Regions from separate parts of the Homo sapiens genome. Here region 2 is linked to region 1. A link means that fine-mapping ties the variant in region 1 to the expression of a gene that starts in the linked region. Tissue or cell type: whole blood. Region 1 holds a variant in brackets; the other region holds the start of a gene. All regions are shown on one strand. Distances are from middle to middle.

Region 1 (2,764 bases):
ATGATAGATATGTTAAACTGCCTCACCATAATAACCATTTTACTATCTATATGTATCCCATAACATCATGTTGTAAATCTAAAATATACACAATAAAATTATTTTTTTTTAAAAGAAGGTTATTAGGTACACTTAAGTTAGTCTGCAAAAGGATAAATTATTTCCTCTTGGGACTTCTGCAAACAAACACGGATTTTTACATAGTCTAGTTTAGAAATATATATTTTCTTTGGTTTGTTTTTCTGGAAGAAAAACAGATTTCACAGAAATGCTACATTTCTTATTTTTTTTAGATTCCTTGAGAGTAAGAAAAAAGAGCAGATCATATTCCTATGTGGTCTGGAAAGAATTTGATTTTCCAGAATTTTAAACAATTCTGCCAGATGAGGGCTTCAGGAGTATAATGATCCCCCTTGTAGCAATTTTAGGCCTACATCTATTACTCTTAAGTGATAACTGATAACTCTTAAAATCAGCTTACCTAGAGGATAACTGGTACTGATTGAGGGACTGTGGAGGCAAACAAGTTTCACTTATGAGAGGAACAGATATCATTATGTCATTCCATTATGATTGCCCTCCCCCATTTTAAATTAAAATATCCAAAGAAAAAGAGACAAGGATTATAAATAATTATGGTAGAAGGAGCCATCCATTACTTTCAGAAGTTCCTGGTCTGGATGGATTAACAGACTAGAAAAACATAAATGACTCTATGTATTGAATAACACAATTGTTGTACCAGTTTTATGTTATAGTCGTTAGAGTACAAGTGATGAACCCAGACAGTCCAGGTTCAAAATCTTGTTCTGCCATGCTGTAGCTATGTGGTTCTGGACAAGTGTTTAAGCTCTTTAAGCATCAATTTTCTCATCTGTTTAATGGGGAAAAGAGTACACATGTTAATTTTTTTTTTTTTGGTGAGGATTAAATGAGCTAACGCTCATGCAAAGTGCTTAGTACACAGTAAGTGCTCAGCTAATGTAAGTTATTTTGGCTAGATGTAAGCTCATGGATAACAGAGCCCTTAATTGATAAAGCGGCTGAGGGTAGAGCAGTGGTGTCAGTCAGGAGGCATAGGTCAAGGAGCACATCCTGTAGAAGAGAAGAGAAAATTTGACCTTGTTTTTGAAGTGCCAGTGAATATTCATTGATGAAGAAAGGAGAAGGAATATTTCAGG[C/G]AGTGGAGCTGGCATGCAGCTAAAAACAGAAATGCTTGTGAGGCTACATAAATCATGCTGATTGGAGTTTGGAAATAGATTTACTTGGCCAGAGGTAGATTTGTACAGGAAAGCAAGAAAGGATGGAGTTGATTACATAAATGGCCAGATGTATGTTAGCTTACATTTAAAAAATCTCTTTGGCAATAGGGAGCTTTTGTATCTTTAAACTAAAGAATGAGATTATAAAACAAATATTTGTCAAAGTTATTTCAGCAGCAGTTTCTGGTTTGGGTAGGGAGACAATGGCATCTATGAAGGGTGTTGATAATCCAGGTACTGCCGACATAGTTCCAGGAAATGTCCAGGGAATTGGAAAGCAAGAGTGTAATTCTGAGAGGTAGTTTGTATGCAGGAATGATACAGTTTGGTAATAGACTCAAGGTGAGAACTCAAATAGAGTAGTTGATAATAATACCTTAAGTTATTACCTTATCTGGGTACCTATTATATAAATAGAACCTCCCATTTCACCACACAACATTCATGCCAGAAATGGAGGAAGAGACACACTTTGTTTAACAACTTCATCAGGGATTCTACAATGATGATATCAAAGTTCCAGATTTTGGTTGCTCCAAAGGAACTTTGTTATTGAGGGACTGGAGGGAGACAAATTACTCTGCATGAGCAAATTACATATATGTGTATGTATTTATTAAAATATATATTTTGCTCCTGATTAAGTTGTTTTAGGAGGGGGGTGTGAGAAGGGCAGAGGAGACAGAGAATAGCCAAAAGCTTTTTTTTTTTTTTTTAATTATTATTTTTTTTTATTATACTCTAAGTTTTAGGGTACATGTGCACATTGTGCAAGTTAGTTACATATGTATACATGTGCCATGCTGGTGCGCTGCACCCACTAACGTGTCATCTAGCATTAGGTATATCTCCCAATGCTATCCCTCCCCCCTCCCCCCACCCCACCACAGTCCCCAGAGTGTGATATTCCCCTTCCTGTGTCCATGTGATGTCATTGTTCAATTCCCACCTATGAGTGAGAATATGCGGTGTTTGGTTTTTTGTTCTTGCGATAGTTTACTGAGAATGATGGTTTCCAATTTCATCCATGTCCCTACAAAGGACATGAACTCATCATTTTTTATGGCTGCATAGTATTCCATGGTGTATATGTGCCACATTTTCTTAATCCAGTCTGTCATTGTTGGACATTTGGGTTGGTTCCAAGTCTTTGCTATTGTGAATAGTGCCGCAATAAACATACGTGTGCATGTGTCTTTATAGCAGCATGATTTATAGTCCTTTGGGTATATACCCAGCAATGGGATGGCTGGGTCAAATGGTATTTCTAGTTCTAGATCCCTGAGGAATCGCCACACTGACTTCCACAATGGTTGAACTAGTTTACAGTCCCACCAAGAGTGTAAAAGTGTTCCTATTTCTCCACATCCTCTCCAGAACCTGTTGTGTCCTGACTTTTTAATGATTGCCATTCTAACTGGTGTGAGATGATATCTCATAGTGGTTTTGATTTGCATTTCTCTGATGGCCAGTGATGATGAGCATTTCTTCATGTGTTTTTT
Region 2 (2,500 bases), 650 kb before region 1:
TGTGGTGGGCACCTGTAATCCCAGCTACTCTGGAGGCTGAGGCAGGAGAACTGCTTGAACCCAGGAGGCGGACGTTGCAGTGAGCCGAGATAGCACCATTGCACTCCAGCCTAGGCAACAAGAGTGAAATTCCATCTCAAAAAAAAAAAAAAAAAAAAGAAAAGAAAAGAAAAAAAGGTCTCAATCCAGGCAGCGAAGACCTTGGCCAAACTTTGGTAGAATCTCCAAGTTATCCTAGCCCAATTAACCTAAGACCACCAAGGATAAACCTGTACTTCTACAAAGTCAGGTTTATAGGCCCATTGCAATGAGGTAGACCACATACCAGAGAGAGTGCTTTGTATAAGTTCAGTTTTTAAGTTTATTTTAATCCTTGAAGTAAAATATTCAAAATGACTCAAGTTGGAAGCATGGCGTTACATCAAAACTTATCATTTTAAGATTAGTAAAGGAGAGGGGTACAGGTGCATTTTTTTATTTCTCCTGATCCAAATTACATAATCTCCCAATTTAATACTATAGTTTGCAGATTCTCATACTTTGATTTGGGCAGAACTGGTCCAAACCCACAAAAAGCTGAGGATGAGCAAGCCTCTTCCTGGACTCTCATAAGGGGAAGGGAAATGAAGGAATCGAATCACTACCTGGAGTACTGTGTACCTTGCCCTGCCAGGGACGCTGCATGCGGTGTATAAGGAAGTTGTGCTCCAGTATGCAAGCGAAGCAACCAGACTTTTTTCCCATGGACAGGAAACTAGAGTCTTCAGAGATGTCCTATATCAGCGAAAGCCCCACCCTGCACTTCTATAAAGGTTAATGAAACGAAAGATGCAATCCCAGCGAACCTAGCCCACTGACTCCCTCCCCACACCTCCACCTGCTGGTGCCTGACAAGCATGCTGGCCTCTCCTCCAGTAGGAACCAGCAGGCGGAGTAAGGAAGCCCGCTGCAGGCAGTAGTGGGGCGGGGCCTCAGAAGCAGTCAGCCCAGGGCTCTCGGATGCAGGGAGCCTGGGCCCAAACAGCAGCTTCCGGAGTCGGAAGGAGCTGAGGAAGAAGACTGACTGAAGGAGCTTGCGACTTTTCCGCCTCGGCAACCGGACCCAGCAGCAAGCAGGACGGGCGGCGCTCTGCTACTGGTCCCGTTAAGCCAGAGTAGCCCAAGCCCTGAAGTCACTGCTCATCCGGAATGGAAATCCCGCCGACCAACTACCCAGCCTCCAGGGCGGCCTTGGTGGCACAGAACTACATCAACTACCAGCAGGGGACCCCGCACAGGGTGTTTGAGGTGCAGAAGGTCAAACAAGCCAGCATGGAGGTGAGTTTAGCAGGGGGTGGTGGACAGCAGAGGCTTCAGGATTGCGCTCCCTCCACTCACCCGCGGTCTCAGCCTTTGGGTGCAGACACTCCGTGCCACCCCCTACCCACCTTCTGTTTTAGGACACACTGCTGGTATCTGGTCTTGAGATATTAAGGTTTCTGGGGGAATGTCTATACTCCAGTCTCTGGAGACAGCCCGGGACTGTTTTCACCTTAAGGCAGAGACAAAGTTTTTACGCACACAGTTACAAGAAAACGGGAACACGCTCTAGGTAAGGGGCAGCACTTTCCTTAAGTGTAAACTGTAGAAACCATTCAAAAGACTACTAAGGCTGCCACGTTTCTCATCTGCTACTCTGATCTGGACCAACAAAAGCTCCCATCTTCCAAGACTCTATTGCCTACATTTTAAGACAAATCCTTATCAGACCCTTTGACCAAAATGAAGGGGGAAACAAACAGCAAGAGAAACTGACAATCAAAGTCAAAGAATAAAAGCACTGTGGGCTGACGCTGGCCTTTAGCCACCCAAACACCGCTACCACATGACTGCCTTAAATGATGTGCACCCTCTGCTAAAGGCTTGAATTAAATGTTTAAGGCCTCAGCAATCACTAACGAGGTTTGTTTTCATTTTACGAAAATCTACTGGATTTGAGATTATCCCTTATTTATCTGACAGAATTTTAACTGCTAACAGTCTTTTAGAGGTGACACAGTAGATCTTATTTTGAAACTGTACCAGATAACAGAATTAGGTATAAATTTTCAATCTGTATCTTGATTTAAAAGTGAAATACCATTTCTTAGTCTTATATAATTTGTTAATCATTTTGCAGTTTCACTAATGTATAAGTAAAAACAATACTTAATTGTATTAAGTCTCCAATTGCTTTGCAGTAATCTGCCTCAAAATGAAATTCACATTCATTGAACATTATTTGGAGGGTACACTGAGCTTTATGAAAAAATCTTTTCAAAGGTGATATTGTCATCTTTAGAATTAAACGCTGTTTCAAACTTTCTTATGTAGAGACTTTAAGATCACAGATCCAGGGGTTAAATAAAGTCTTTTGATGATTGAAAGTGAATTGTGCCCAATTTGTATGCTTTTATCCTACTCTTTTGTTTTCATCCAAAATAAACTTGATAGGGGACTTGCTAAATTAGATGTTACATTC

What was found. PIP is the estimated chance that this variant, and not a neighbour inherited with it, causes the effect.
Region 2: it holds the start of LXN, and the variant in region 1 is fine-mapped to the expression of LXN in whole blood (TOPMed, PIP 0.99).

What each region holds. Positions count from the first base shown.
Region 1 is chr3:158,024,927-158,027,690 of GRCh38, reverse strand. No RefSeq gene overlaps it. Among named protein-coding and RNA genes, the nearest start is that of SHOX2, 80 kb to the left of the region's middle. The variant C/G (reference allele first, on the strand shown) is at 1,182.
Region 2 is chr3:158,671,167-158,673,666 of GRCh38, reverse strand. It overlaps LXN (latexin), which reads left to right and starts at 1,019. Exons shown (of 6, transcript NM_020169.4): 1 at 1,019-1,317. The coding sequence starts at 1,189. All of the region lies in intron 13 of GFM1 (G elongation factor mitochondrial 1), which reads right to left. RefSeq lists enhancers at 646-835, 1,146-1,195, 617-1,209, 1,636-1,695, 1,210-1,802.